Homo sapiens: one gene and its partner. The protein of the gene in region 1 interacts with the protein of each later gene in a pairwise test. Each region holds a gene or a part of one and is shown on either strand. Other genes may lie near its edges.

Region 1 (4,128 bases):
TGGGGGTGGGAATCCAGGTCTTATTCATGGCCATATACCCCCCAGGGCTGAGGACCCAGGCTTGTGGTGTGAGAGGAAGAACCTAAACCAGGAGAACCTGGTTCCAAGAGCAGCAAGGAACAGGTCTCTCCTTGGACTATGCTTCCTTGCTGCCCTGAGATTCTGTGACTCAATGAGGGATGGAGGGTGGGGAGGCGGTAGTGGTGTGGGGGGCACAGGATGGGGCAAGGAAAGGAGAGGGGAATCGGAAGCCAAAGAACCAGACCTCACCTGGGTGGGCTGCATAGCAGGTGACGCCAGTGGCCTCAAGCTGGTTGGCGAGCTCCCGGGCAAACAGTACATTAGCCAGCTTAGTGTCAGCATATGCCCGCAGCTCCTGCCGCCAGCCCACCACTGGGCGGTCCAGGCGTTTGAAGTCAAGACGTCCCCGACAGTGGGCAGCTGAGGCTACCACCACCACGCGGCTAGGGGCACATGCCTTCAGGCAAGGCAGCAGCAGATGTGTCAGCAGAAAGGGACCGATATGGTTCACCCGAAGCAGCAGGTTAAACGCCTCACGGGTCCGGCCACAGGAACTGATACCTGGGGCAGAGGCTAAATGTGAGCGGCTGCTCCAGAAGGAGCTCTGCAGCCTTGGCATCCCTATCTATGAGATGGGAGAAGGGGGCATCCTTCCCATGTGTCCACTGGCCCCAGCAGGGCCCCCGCTGGAGGGGGCAGTTGCCCCTGGCCACCCGCCACCCCACCCCCACGCAGGGCCTGCTGCCCCTCACCGGCATTGTGGATGAGGATGTCCAACCGTGGCTCAGAGCTCAGAAAGGCAGTGGCAAAGGCCCGCACCGAGGCCAGACTGGCCAAGTCCAAGGCCATGAAGATGACCTCATTGTTCCCACTCTCCTGTGGAGAGGCAAGGGCTGGGCTTGTCACCAGGCATCTCTCTCCTCTTCCCTCTCCCCAGGCACCAAATTCTGAGAGTCCATCTCCTACTGTTTACTAAAATCTGCCCCTGTGTCTTAGAGTGTACTAGATAAGTGTGTGGATTCAAATCCTGACTTTGCCTTTTACTAAAGTGTGACCTTGGGCAAGATACTTAATCTCTCTGGGTCTCAGTTCTCTCACTGCGTAAAGGGAATAATAATAACAACAGTCCCAATCTCACTGAGCTTTTGTGAGGATGAAAGGAGTTAACGTGTAAAATACACTCTAGCAGCACTGGGTAGGTACTTGCTATTATTATTATCACCTCCTTTCCCCATTACCATTTACCCTAAAATCTGTAACTTCTCACTGGTCTCCTCTCTCCCGCTCTTGCCCCCCCACTCCAGGCACCACGCAGCCACAAAGGAGTTCCTTCCAAAGGCTATTCTGACAGTCCGGAGCCTACTGAGGGCTGTTCATGGTCTCCACTGGTCTCTGCTGCCCAATCTATAAAATCCAAGCTTCTCAATAGGCTCTAGAATGTTCTCCAGCCCCCTCATTTGCCCATCTTCCTCATACTTTGTGCTCCAGCCTCATTAAATCTTTTTCTCAGTTTTTCAGATCAGTCCAGCTCTCTTTGCCTCAGAGCCTTTGCTTATGCTGTGCCCTCTGCTGTTCCCTTTCCTACTGATCATTAACCCAACTTCTACTGATGCTTAAACGTCTCAGAACTGCAATTACGGCCTTCAGGAAGCCCCTCCCCCACTCGGCTCTGGTGCGCCTTCCTCGGGTGACCCCAGCGCTCCGTGCACTCCCTCTTCGCGCTCAGCCGCCCGCGCCGCGCTCTCCTCCCTGGACCCGGATCCTCCGCAGCCCCTTTGCTGGCTTCTCTGTGTCCCGGCGGGTTCTCGGCTCACCGTCCCACGCGCCCCCGCTGCCTCTCACCTGGCGGAGGTCGAAGGCAGCCGCCTCCCCGCGCTCCTGGCTGCGGCAGGCCAGCACCACGCGCGCTCCCCGGCGCGCCAGCTCCAGCGCCGTCATCTTTCCGATGCCGCTGTTGGCGCCTGCGGACCGCGGGCGGGAGCCGAGCTGAGCTGAGCCCGGCGGGCCGCTGCTACCGCCGGCCCGGCCTCCTCTCCGCGCGCCCCGCCAGCTCGCACTCACCCGCCTCCGCACTCACCCGTGACCACGGCCGTGCGGCCCCGCAGGTTGCCCATGCCGCCGCACGGCGGGGCCTTCACCAGGTTGTAGTAGACAAGCACGTAAGCGCCCAGCAGCAACCCCGCGCCCAGCAGCAGCGCCTCCATGCCGGCCGCGCCTCCCGGCTCCCGCCCAGGCCCCGCACCGCCCTGGATCGCCGCCAGGCGGCTGCCGATCCGCCCTGCACAGGCCTGGAACGGCGCCCGGGCGCGTCAGCCTCCGAAGGCGGAGGCGGGCAGGAGGCTGGGCAGGGGCGTGTGCGCGTGCGGGTGCGCGCCGGCCCTGCGAGCGCCCCCTAGGCGTGCGTCGGCGTCCTGGGGGCGTGTGCCTCTGTGGACACCTTTGAGGTGAGTGTGTGCGCTTGGGCCCTGGGAGCGCCCCCTAGGTGTGTGCCTGTGTGAACTCCTGGGTGTGTGTGTCCACGTACACCCTGTGAGTGCACGCTAGGTATGTGCATGCATCTGCAACGCTTGTATGTGAATGATCTCTAGGTGTGTATGTGCCCATGTCCCTGAGGATCACCCTTTGGGTTGTGTGCGTGCCTCTGGATCCTGTGTGTGAGCTCCTGTAAGCACCTTGTAGGTGTTTGTGTGCATTCTGGCAGAGTCCCTCCAGGTATGTGCCTGCATCTGTAGTCTCTGCCAGTGCATGTGCTTGCATATCTCCATATGTTTACTCGAGGTGTATGTAGCACAGTCCCTCCCTTCTGAAGTTAGGTGTGTACATGAATACACGTGTGTCTTTGAGTCTAGTCCTAGATGCTTTTCCCTCTAAGAACAAATCCTTCTCCTTCCTTCCCTTCTGCACAAATCCTTCTCCTTTCCTTCCTTTCCTTTCCTTCCTTCCTTCCTTCCTTCCTTCCTTCCCTTCCTTCCTTCCTCCCTTCCTTCCTTCCTTCCTTCCCTCCCTCCCTTCCTTCCTTCTTTCCTTTCTTTCTTTCTTTTGAGACGGAGTTTCACTCTCGTTGCCCAGGCTGGAGTGCAGTGGCGTGATCCCGGCTCACTGCAACCTCCGCTTCCCGGGTTCAAGCAATTCTCCTGCCTCAGAATCCAGAGTAGCTGGGATCACAGGTGTGTGACACCACACCCGGCTAATTTTTGTATTTTAGTAGAGAAGGGTTTTCACTATGTTGGCCAGGTTGGTCTCAAACTTCTGACCTTAAGTGACCCACCTGCCTCAGCCTCTCAAAGTGCTGGGATTACAGGTGTGAGCCTCTGCACTGGGCCAAATCCTTCGTTTTCTTATCTTCACATCCAGCCCCCAGCTTCTAGGATTCTTCCGTGTTCTCCCCACACAGGCTAGAGAGGACACTGTTAAAGGTGGCACAGGCAGTTAAGGGGTGTCAGAATTCACTCCTTCATTCCCCCTCTGTATCTCCCTACCTCAACCCCACTAGTGCCTTCCATGGCTGAAGGGAAGCAGGAAGAGATAGAGAGTAAAATCTGTTATTGCCTTTCAGGAGGAAATTTGCCTTTGGAATGGTTCTCATAGGTGATAAGAGACAGGCAGAGAAGCTCCATCACTCAATTACAAGTGACCATGATGGCAGGAAGGGTGGGGCTGGCTAGGAACAAATGGGTAAGACCATTCCAGGGCAGAAGGCCGTTGCCTGATACATTCAGTACAATTTAGAACCTGGTATTTGGCACTTATGGTGTGCCCAGCAGTGTAGTTAGACTTGGAAATTCCGAGTGGAAGATATACAAGTTTCTGTCCTTAGGGAGTTCAAAAAGCCCATTAGGGCACCGGGAGCAGAGTGATGACGCCTGCATGGGCAGATGAAAGTCAGGGACAGACCTCAGATTCCAGGGCCAGTTTCCTATTTAGCTGCACTGCGGATTCGGGTTTCCATTGTAGATGCTGTGGGATGAGGCTGGGGGTAGAATATTCATTTTCTATCCCTAAGGCAAAATCCTGACACACAAGCAGATGCACCTACACAAACAGTGCTGGAATATACACAGAGGTGCTCTCCATCTGAGGAGGCTGACCTCAGGAAAACTTCCTGGA
Region 2 (3,600 bases), on another chromosome or scaffold:
AGGCTGCTCACTATTGCCATAGTACACTAAAACGCCAGCTTGAGCACAATGCCTACCATCCTATAGAGTGGGCTATCAATGCTGCTACCTTGTCACAGTTTTACATCAATAAGGTAAGCTTCTTGAAGTAGTTATCTAACAGAGTACCAATAGTGAGTATAAAAATAGAACCAGTAGTACCTTGAAAATACTATCTTTTAAAAACAGGTAGCTTGTATTTTATGATGTACAACTGAAGCCGAAAATGCAGCCCAGTTTGCCCGTGTACTAAAATTTTGTAGCTTTTTGTTGTATGAATTATTTTGAGTTTTAAAATACCGAGTTTTATCATTGTTTTACATGTTACCTAAGACCAATTCTTTTTTTAACATAGGCACGCTATCTCAACTCATTTTAGTGAGATATTACCTTAAATTGCAGATTTTACCTTGTAGATATAGCTTTATCTTTACGTAATGGTAATCTCATAACTCTGAGAATTTGACTGAGGAAGTTGACTGTTAAATGTGGGCTTTGATAAAAGCATGTGATGCATTTCAGTTATTTTTCAGAATTAACTCTGTAATAATTTTTTAATGTTGGAAATATGTCTGCTGAGTTCCAAAGTTCTAGGTCTTTATACCATACTTCTTTTGGATTGTTACACAGGGACAATGTTTTTGAGCTTCTTAGTTGTTTATCAGAATTTCTCATAAAAATTTAAAAAAGCATTGCTCACATCATGTTGGTGTACTCTTAATTGACCCATTTATTCCTTTAATCCTTGAGAGTTTTTAATGCTAAAATAATTTTACACCACCTTTTCTAACCAGATTTTCCTATTAATCCTTAATAAGACATCTCAGCAATATAAATTACTTTTATTTATATTTCGAATTCGCAAGCCTCTCTGAAATTTTGGTAGTTCTCTGCTTATCAGAGTTCCTTCTTTCATCTCTCTGGTAACCCGCTGCCTTATCCTTGGGCCTTTATCCTTTTTGAGCATTTCGTTAGCGTTGGTTCTGTAAATGCGCCCGATGATTAAAGTATTGTCCCACAGAATTTCATTCAGAAAAGCTATTAGCAGGAGAGAAAGGGCTGTGGTGACTGCAGCATCGCTTCTAGGACTTTGGTCTAAGATCAAGTGTGTAAGTAACGCTACTGCATATATCAGAGCATTCAGTTAACTAATTCTCATGAATCCATTTCATTGTCCTCATCCAAAGTGTTATCCAGTGCCTCCGCTTGTGACATCTTTTTTACAGCTGTTGGAGGCCCCTTATTCATTCTGTTTAGCAACTTTAAAATTACATATTCACTGTGACTTTAATTTATACTTAAAACTCCATGGAAATTGGCAGTACTAAGATATCTAGATATTAAAGTGTGATTAAAATTTAAAGTTGTTAAGCATTACTTATGTGGAGCATGCAGTAATTTTCATGAGACCTCCCACACCCTGCACTTTTATTTTTTTACCAAAATCTTTTTTAAGTTTTTGTTAAAACCAACTAAGTCGTATTGCAAAAAGAGGGATTTGAACCATGTTTTTAAAAATGCAATTGTCATTTATATCATTGTCATCTTCATCTGATTCCAGTGATGAGGTTTTGCTACTTGGTGAATCCCTACCTGGCAGCTGCTAAAGTCCCACATTTACCAGCCACCTAGAGGGCATAAGACACTCACTGTTCTAGCAGTGGTTGCTCACAGGGAGCCAATCTGGACAAAGCTGAAATGACGATAAATGTTAAGGGATTGGATTATAGAGAGATAATTAAAGTTTCATTATATAAACTCTAACTTTCTTTTGGCTTTTAAGATTTAACACATTTTTATCTATAGATGTTGCTGGGCTAATACTACACGTGTCCAGCTATTCTCAAGATGGCTTCTGAATTTGCCATAATGGAAAGATACATTTAATGCTGCAATTTTAAAGTTATAGCCAACCATTTAAAGCCTTTCAGGTATTACTAATATTAAGTAGACATTCTATTTAATGAGGGTGGCTTCCAACTAAAAGTTGGACTTTAACTTTGAACTTCTGCTGGGTGGTCCTTTGACTTACATGACAAATACAAAATGTTTCTATTAACAAGGAGATCTTCTCTAATTGTTTGAGAAGTTTGCCATGCCCGGAATTGAATTATGAAGTCTTCAAGAGTGTTGGTAAAGCAGTTCCATAAGGTTCATCTGTAGAAGTCTGTTGACTTTAAAACTTGGTGGGAAGCCTTATTGTATGTAAAGTTTAAAGATTTTAGAACACAGGAATATCTTCTTACCTGAGTTTATCCTATTTGCCTTTGTATAGTAGGATGTAAAGGGGCTCTCTAAACCTAATAAAAATTAAATCCTCAGGCTGGGCAAGGTGGCTTACATCTATAACCCCAGCACCCTGGGAGGCCAAGGTGGGAGCATTGCTTCAGGCCAGGAGTTGGAGACCTGTTTAGGCAACATAGAGAAACCCCAGAATTAGTCAGGCTTGGAGGCTAAAGGTGGGAGGATCCCTTAAGACCAGGAGGTTGAGGCTGCAGTGAACTATGATTGTGCCACTGCACTCCAGCCTTGGGCCAGAGTGAGACCCCTGTCTCGTAAAAAAAAAAAAAAATATATATATATATATATATATATATATTCAGTCTTCTGACACAATGTAAATAGTCTAAGAATTTATTGTGCATGGGATTTTGGCTACTTAGACTGAACCTAAAGGAGTTTTTGAGACAGTTTAAGTCTAGGATGACAGCCATTCCTGTATATCTATTGATTGTATAAGGAGAGCTAACTTTCAGTTGGCAGTTGTCTTTCAATCCGAGTGGATTATTATTAAGAGTTTGGGGGCATTAATATTTTAACCTTTGAGGTTACATTTTAACCAGATAATATGATAATATATCTTTTGTACCTTCTGAATGATCTGCAACTCTACAGGGCCTCCTTTGTAGTATTTTTATCTGATTTTATACCTTTTCCCATATTAAAAGAAATTATGCAAGTATCAGTTGCAAATAAAGCTGTGTGATAGTTGCATTCACTGTTGTTTATTTCCCCAATAGCTATGCTTTATGGAGGCCAGGCACTGTTTATCAGCTGCTAATGTCATTTTTGGTCAAACTGGAAAGATCTCAGCCACAGAAGACAGTAAGTTTACCTTTGCATGTTTTACATAGCTTTTAAAAAAAGTTTTATTTTGAAATTATTTTAAACTTTTGAAAAGTTGCAAGAACAGAAGAGCTATCATATGCCCTTCTAAATGCACCAATTTTTAGTATTTTCCTCGCTTGGAATCAAATTTTATTTTTCTCTCTGAACCATTGGAGAGAAGGTTACATACATTAGGCTCTTTTACCCTTTCATACTTTAGTATATATTTCCTAAGAAGAATATTTTCTTACATAATCATAGATCATTTATCAAATTCAAGAAATGTAACATTGGCCAGGCATGGTGGCCCACGCCTGTAATGCTAGATTTTGGGAGGCCAAGATGGGAGGGGCCAGGAGTTCAAGACAAGCCTGATCAACATAGTGAGACCCCATCTCTATGTTTTTAAAGAAATTAAAAAAAAAAAAGTAACATTGATACAATTCTTTTATCTACACTGCATATTTCTATTTC

Evidence for each region.
Region 2: the proteins of DHRS13 (region 1) and KIFBP interact in binary tests that used the Homo sapiens proteins (3 or more experiments, as listed by UniProt).

The regions. Positions count from the first base shown.
Region 1 is NC_000017.11:28,900,720-28,904,847, forward strand, and holds the start of DHRS13 (dehydrogenase/reductase SDR family member 13 precursor), read right to left. Parts: upstream 2,361-4,128; 5' UTR 2,226-2,360; coding exon 2,099-2,225; intron 1,983-2,098; coding exon 1,864-1,982; intron 898-1,863; coding exon 774-897; intron 583-773; coding exon 271-582; intron 1-270. UniProt on the Homo sapiens protein: Putative oxidoreductase.
Region 2 is NC_000010.11:69,005,803-69,009,402, forward strand, and holds part of KIFBP (KIF-binding protein), read left to right. Parts: coding exon 1-113; intron 114-1,095; exon of another isoform or gene 1,096-1,949; intron 1,950-3,038; coding exon 3,039-3,123; intron 3,124-3,600. UniProt on the Homo sapiens protein: Activator of KIF1B plus-end-directed microtubule motor activity. Required for organization of axonal microtubules, and axonal outgrowth and maintenance during peripheral and central nervous system development.